2 linked regions of the Homo sapiens genome follow. The protein of the gene in region 1 purifies or fractionates together with the protein of each later gene. This does not show direct contact. Each region holds a gene or a part of one and is shown on either strand. Other genes may lie near its edges. The genes, in order: TUBA4B and IQCB1.

Region 1 (3,821 bases):
CTACACTTTCTGCTCAAGTCCTGCTTCCCCCACACTCCCCACACCTAAATTCAGACCCCCTCAGCAGCCCTGCTTCTCAGCCTAGGCTCAGCCCCACAACCTGGTTACCATTAAACTTTCCTTCCCTACCCCCTGTGATGCCCCCCACACCTGCACATTTGGGGGCCACAGCCACATCTGGAAGTCTCTTTCCCTCTCCCCACCTCGCCACATACTGTAGCCCCATCACCATGTGGACTCCCAAGGTACCTTCACGCCAGATATCTTGGGCCCACTGGGACCCTCACTTGCATGCTCAGTCCCCCCAAGGCCCCTTCTACTCACCATGCTGCCTGGACAGGGGCTGGCTGGGGTCTTGTCTCTCTGTCTGCTGCAGGATAGTGAGCAGGGATAGATCTGTGAGAGGCCTGCAGCGGCCAGCCAGCCTCCTCCTTATACTCGCTGGGTGGCTCTCAGCAGGTGGATGTTGTTAGAAACGGCCTGGGAGGGCAGGGCCTGTTGACTTGGTCACAGAGTACGAGGCAAGCTCTGGGCCTGCACCCAAACAGGGGAGCCAGCTGAGGTGGGCAGAGGAGGGGCCAGGGCTAGTAACTCCACACAGGTATCCAGGCCTCTGGGTACATGGTATCTGTTGTCAGTCACGCAATCCCATTTCCTGGTGGCACAGCCTGCACTTCACAGGTGGAAGATGATTTAGAAATCAAGACCCTGAGCTCCAGCACCGCCCCCACCCATCAAACCCCTGCACTCCCCTGCCCTAGGGTTGCTGAGGGCTGTAAGTCGACTGTGGGTGGGACTAAGAAGATCTCTGCAATGATCCAGAAATAATGAGTCCTCGGCCAAGAGATCAAGCCTCAGGACATCCTGCCTGGAAACTCAGAATATCATAGAACAAGCGACCTAGAGCTTGGTTTTAATCCCACCTCTAATAGCTACTAGCAATTAAAACTTCTTTTTTTTTCTCTCTCTGGAGAATGGGGAGAGGTAGTATTACGAGGTACTAACAAGGTAACCTTTCTTAAGTGCTTAGTCCAAAACAGCTGTTGCTCTCCAAGGGCAAAGCAAGAGGATGAGCAGGGCCTCAAGGCACTTCCTAAATGTCTCTTCCTAGGCCATGGCAAGTCACTGCTGCTCTAGCCTGGCCTTATGTCCCCAGAAAAGGAGTCTCCCGATAGTCTTAGGCAAAATTCTGAAATAAAAAGGCTAGTCTCTAGCATTTGTATCCTGCTTTATGCATCTTTTTTTTTTTCTTTTGAGAAGGAGTCTTGCTCTGTTGCCCAGGCTGGAGTGCAGTGGTGCAATCTCAGCTCACTGCAACCTCCACCTCCGGGGTTCGAGCGATTCTCCTGCCTCAGCCTCCTGAGTAGCTGGGATTACAGACACCTGCCACCAGGCCTGGCTAATTTTTATATTTTTAGTAGAGACACGGTTTCACCATGTTGGCCAGGCTGGTCTCAAACTCCTGGCCTCAGATGATCCACCTGCCTCAGCCTCCCAAAGTGCTGGGATTACAGGCATGAGCCCCTGCGCCTAGTCTGCTTTATGCTTAAGGCACCTTCTCTCCGTACCTCCTTTGAATCCCTCAACAACTCTGTAAGGTAGGCAAGGCAGGGCCTCCCTTTCCCAGGATGAAGGAAAGGAAATTGAAATCCCTAGTGTCCTGCCTGAGGTCACATGGGGATTAATTAATGCTGGAATTAAGATTTATCTGGGACTCGGGCTCTGCTTCCCCTCTTTCCACATGGCAGAGTGTGCACAGCAGCCCCTCCTCGGTCTTTATCTCCTTCCTCCCAGTCTTCAGTTCCATGGCCAGCCAGGGTCACTCCCTTTTGTACCCCTCAACTGTCTTGCCTCCCACTAGCTTCAACATCCTTGTTTGACTAAACCAGAACCCTGGTTAAATTTGTTTTGTCCCCAGCTCTGTGTCTGCACTCACCCAGCTAAACAGTGGCCATAGAAAAATCCAGAACCATGCTGACTGATGTTTCGAACGCATGGCCACTAGCCTCAAATGGGCCCTCATGTTGCCTGGAAATCACACCACAGTAGCCCCCCATTAGCCACTTTCTGCAGTTTCAGTTGCCTGCAGCCAACCACAGTCTGAAAATATTAAAGAGAAGGTTCCAGAAAAACACAATGTATACGTTTTAAACTGCACGCCATTCTGAGTAGTGTGATGAAATCTAGTGCCATCCTACTCCATCATGTCTAGAACATCCCTGTGTGCAGCGTATCCACACTGTTGACACTACCTACCCATTAGCCACTGAGTAGCCGGATCCCTTATCAGATCGACTGTGGCGATGCTTCTGCTCATGTAACCCTTATTCTACCTCATAACAGCCCCACCGCTCAAGAGCAGTGATGCTGGCATATTACTATCATTGCTTTATTTCTCTATATCATTATTGTTCTTTTTTTTTTTTTTTTTGAGACAGGGCCTCACTCTGTCACCCAGGCTGGAGTGCAGTGGCATGATCTCAGCTCACTGCAACCTCTGCCTCTTGGGTTCAAGCAATTCTCCCACCTCAGCCTCCTGAGTAGCTTGGATTACAGGCACATGCCACCACGCCTGGCTAATTTTTGTATTTTTATTAGAGATGGTGTTTCACCATGTTGGCCAAGCTGGTCTCGAACTCCTGACCTCAAGTGATCTGCCTGCCTTGACTTCCCAAAGTTCTGGGATTACAGGCATGAGCCACTGCACCTGGCCTATTGTTGTTCTTAACCTCTTACTGTGCCTAATTTATGAATTAAACTTGGTCATATGTATGCATGTATAGGAAAAAACAGTACATAAGGTTCAGTACTATCCGCCATTTCAGGCATCCGCTGGGGGCCCTACAACATATCTTTGTAAGTAAGGGGGGACTGTTGTACAGTTCAGTCCCTCTTCCAGATAGCAGCCAAAACCAGGACTAGGTCTGCCAGATTTAGCAAATAAAAGTATTTTATTTAGCAACCCTATCCAGGAAGTAGTTGCTAATGTGAAATTTCAGCCACTGTGTTACATAGTGCAGTTGAAACAGGGGACTTTTTCAGAGACCCTGTCAACCCAGTAAGCTAGGGAATGATCTCAAGTTGGTTAACTCTGGCTTTGGCTACAGACTGAAGGTTAGAACTCTTCTGTCTCCCACCTGGAACAAAGAGGCCCAAAGAAGAGACCCAGCCACTTAACATATCAAAGATAAGAAAGCTCAGCCTTCTACTGGGTTGGCCCATGAAACCATGGACCTCAGGAATTATTGTCCAGATGGAGTGATATGGGGCCCAGAGGGCCCACTGGGCTCAAAACTCTCTTGTGTAGCACTGAAACTTCTCCCAACTGGCCTTGGGAGTTGGACTCTCAGAGTCAACCTAGGTATCACCAACTCCAAAAAGAAAACTATCCTAATGGCAGTCAGCTGTCTTATGTAAAGCAGAATGAAAAGACTGAGTTTTGTGATCTTGGCTCACTGTAACCTCCTCCTCCTGGGTTCAGGCAATTCTCCTGCCTCAGCCTCCCGAGTACCTAGGACTACAGGCATGCACCAACACACCCCGCTAATTTTTGTGTTTTTAGTAGAGACAGTGTTTCACCATGTTCGCCAGGCTGGTTTCAAACTCCTGACCTCAGATGATCCATCTGCCTTGGCCTCCCAAAGTGTTGGGATTATAGGTGTGAGGCACTGTGCCCGGCCAAGACTGAGATTTTTAAAGCATTTTAATGCATCTAGATTAAAACATAAGAGGCCATGAATACTCTTAATTTCTTCAACAAATATTGAGTGCTTGCTGTATGCCAAGCACCATTTCAGGTGCCAGGGATACAGTGATAAACA
Region 2 (3,821 bases), on another chromosome or scaffold:
AGGTTCCAGAATATACTGAAATGCGGTTCTAACCTGTTGGATTCTATTTAATTTTTTAATTTTCAGTTTTCTCCAGTTCAGCACCTTCGCTCTTCTATTAGTTGTAACAGTTCATGCAAATGTCTCTTGCTTCCTTTGTAGCTTGGTTTTTTTTCAAAGGTTATTTCTGTCTTTTTGTGCTCAGGACTTATCTCAGTAATTTCCCCTTCCCATGGTTTTGGGAGAGAGACTGCCCACTGGTCACACTTATGGGTCCAGGTTGATTAGTGTTCTTTAGATTCAGCAAGAGGCATTCTTTTATAGTCACGCCCTTGCTAATGCACTTTCATAGTGGTTTCTTTTTTATTTAGTCATTTCTCGTATTCAGAAACTTTGTCTCTTAAGTACTCTTATTCAGCAAGGTTTTCTGAAGCGGCTAACAGCTGCTCTAGTTATCTTAGAGAAACCTCACAATTTACCTACCTCTATCATAGTGCTGATTTTTAAGTGTTTTAATTACATTTGTTGATTTCATCTTGAAACTGAGCTTCTTAAATGCAGATAGCATCTTTTTTCTCTCTCTCCCTCTGAGGCACAGTGTCTTGGCAGCAGAAAATTTGGTCAACTCCCACTTTAATGGTAAAAATTCAGATTGATTAAATGTAAATCATGGAATTTACTTATTTCAGAATATGACATCTGATCAGTCATTTCATCTTCAGAAGTGTAGTACAGATGCCAGGTGGTCCAGTGCCTACTAATTCTTACAAAGAAACCAGTTGGAAGAATAATTGTTTGATTTTTGAGTGATTAGAGAAACTCTGAACAAAATAACTCGATGTTATTTAATAATAAATGGGGGAATTACATTCAAAATCACTTCAGTTCCTAATAAATGTTTTCAGATATGAAAGTAAAACATATGAATCCAATAAGCACACCTGTTTACAATTTAGTCCCTATTTAAATCACCAAATCTCACTTTTTTTTTTTTTTTTTTTTTTGAGACGGAGTCTTGCTCTGTGGCCCAGGCGGGAGTGCAGTGGCGCAATCTCGGCTCACTGCAAGCTCCGCCTCCCGGGTTCACACCATTCTCCTGCCTCAGCCTCCCGAGTAGCTGGGACTACAGGCGCCCGCCATCACGCCCGGCTAATTTTTTTGTTATTTTTTAGTAGAGACGGGGTTTCACCGTGTTAGCCAGGATGGTCTCGATCTCCTGACCTCGTGATCCACCCGCCTCGGCCTCCCAAAGTGCTGGGATTACAAGCGTGAGCCACCGCGCCCGGCCCAAATCTCACTTTTGTCCTGTCTTTCTGGTTTGTACTTTACTTCCACCTTCATGCTCCATAGTCTTTTCATTTTTGCCATATTTGATAGCCTACATGCCTAAATTGTTTCCCAAACCCAGTTTTCTGACAGATTAAATATTCTAGCAGATGCAATTTTAATGATTACTATGTTTTTCATACTAATAGTGTAAAATGGTATTTAAAATATTGATAATGCAGTATTAGACATTATAATCTATAGCCAATTAGAAGTTAGAAACAGAGGTAGTTTTTTGTCGTTGTTGTTGTTTTGAGGCGGAGTCTCACTCTGTCACTCAGGCTAGAGTGCAGTGGCACGATCTTGGCTCACTGCAACCTCCACCTCCCAGGTTCAAGCTCCTGCCTCAGCCTCCCAAGTAGCTGGGACTACAAGTGCACACCATCACACCCAGCTAATTTTTGTATTTTTAGTAGAAATGGGGTTTCGCTATGTTGGCCAGGCTGGTCTCAAACTCCTGACCTCAGGTGATCCACCCACCTTGGCCTCCCAAAGTGCTGGGATTACAGGCGTGAACCACCGCGCCCGGCCACAGAGGTAGTTTTTTAAAAATCAGTTTAAAAGGAGGCTCTGTTTAGGGCCTGCTCTCTTTTACCCTCTATGAATGGGTAAGAGATAAAACATTATTATCTGCATGCTGTATAACCCAGAAGTTTTGAGGTGATGGAGTTCTGTAGAACAGGCAAGTTGCTATCAGCTATTCTTTGGGAAGGGAGAGGCCCTTACCTACTTCATTTCCAGCTTTCACAAAGAGCAAGAGACACTTAGAACTATTCAACTAGCCCTAGATCTTCTCTGGAATCTTTTGACACACATACACTTTTGAGGTCTTCTCTACCCTTGATAATAGGGATAAGAAAGAAGTTTCAAAACAAATAAATTCTCTACTCTGCCCTAAGTAGAAAGCTAGAGAAAATTTAAGTTGTAATTGATGGAAGAATTTATGAGAAACAACCACAGGCACACAAAATTTTATCAAAATCAAAATAAACTATTTTGAGTTGAAAATTCAGTTGAAAAATCATAATAATCCTAACTATACTATAATGAAGTCTGACTATTAAGAGTACAAAGCTATAGCCAAGGTACCACATTTGTTTACAGTTTAATTCTAAGAATACAGTTTAAAAAAAAGATCTAAGAGAAAATGTTCTTGAGGGAGACACATGTCAAATTAAGTCTATAGCGGTAAACTAAGTAGTTTATTCTGCCTTTCTTCTTATCCTCGTTTTCTTTTTCTGTGGGTGTCTGAAAGCATTTTGAGTATATTTACTGTAAACTGACACTTGTAGTCTCCTTACATAGTGATATTGGAAGCAACAAAAACTAGATGGGAATGGCTAAGGAGAAATTTTGGTGAATAAAAGCAGATAATACAGAAATTATAATTATATAAAATGTTTGTGGTCACATGAAAATTTTCATAACCAGTTATGAAAGTAATGTTCAGTTGTCAATAATTGAGAAATAGGCATAAGAAGAAAATAAAGATCAACTGTAATTACATCATGCAGTAAAAATCACTTGAAATTTTAATGTTTTTTATTTTTTTTTTGTGTAAGTAAATGTAAGTTTTTTGACACAATTTTGATGTCATTCTTCTATATCCTGATTTTCCTTTTACCTGACATTAGATCATCAGTATATTCTCATGTCACTAAATATTCTTCGAACATTTTATGTTTTCATAGTTCATAGAATCCCATCCCATCAGGTGAATGAACCAGTATCTGTTTATCCAACTCGCTGTTGTGAGACAAAGTTTGTTTTCAACTTGTTACTGTTGTAATACTGTGGAGAACATTTTTGAACATAAATTTTTACATATATATCTGATTATTTCCTTAAGAAAATTATTTGTAATAGAATTAATTGGTCATCACTTTTAAGGCTTTTTATTTATATATTTCAAATATTTTTCCAGACTTTTAATGCATATATTCAAATATTTCTACAGAAAGATTGCACAACAGCAGCAGATGACAAGCTATTTTATCATACCTTATTAACACTAGAAATTATCTTAAAATTTTTTCTGTTTACATTTATTTGATTACTAGTGAGGTTATGCATTTTTTCATATGATTTATGAAAATTATGTATAACACACTGTTTCCATCACAGATCCAAACGATCAAAGATGTTGCTGGAGATAAATAGGCAGAAGGAAGAAGAGGACCTCAAATTACAATTGCAACTTCAAAGACAGAGAGCCATGAGACTTTCCCGAGAATTGCAGCTGAGTATGCTCGAAATAGTTCATCCAGGTGAGTGGCAGTATCAACTTTATCAATATAAGAATATTTAGGTTATCTTTTAACAAACCAACTTTTCTAGCTACGTGATGATTTTTTTTTAAATTTGGACTTTTGTCCTTTTTCTCTGTTTTTCAGATAAACTTTATTAGATCTTCTGAGTTCAAAAACGGTTACTGTTTTTTCAATTCAGACCTATTAGTTGACGATGAACAATCTCCCCACCAGTTTTTTTTCTTATCCTTCAGATAATTTAGTGAA

Evidence for each region.
Region 2: the proteins of TUBA4B (region 1) and IQCB1 purify together in Homo sapiens (co-immunoprecipitation; one large-scale study listed by IntAct). This does not show direct contact.

What each region holds. Positions count from the first base shown.
Region 1 is NC_000002.12:219,263,070-219,266,890, reverse strand, and holds part of TUBA4B (tubulin-like protein alpha-4B), read right to left. Parts: intron 371-3,821; coding exon 325-370; intron 1-324. UniProt on the Homo sapiens protein: Tubulin is the major constituent of microtubules, a cylinder consisting of laterally associated linear protofilaments composed ofalpha- and beta-tubulin heterodimers.
Region 2 is NC_000003.12:121,789,824-121,793,644, reverse strand, and holds part of IQCB1 (IQ calmodulin-binding motif-containing protein 1), read left to right. Parts: intron 1-3,429; coding exon 3,430-3,572; intron 3,573-3,821. UniProt on the Homo sapiens protein: Involved in ciliogenesis. The function in an early step in cilia formation depends on its association with CEP290/NPHP6.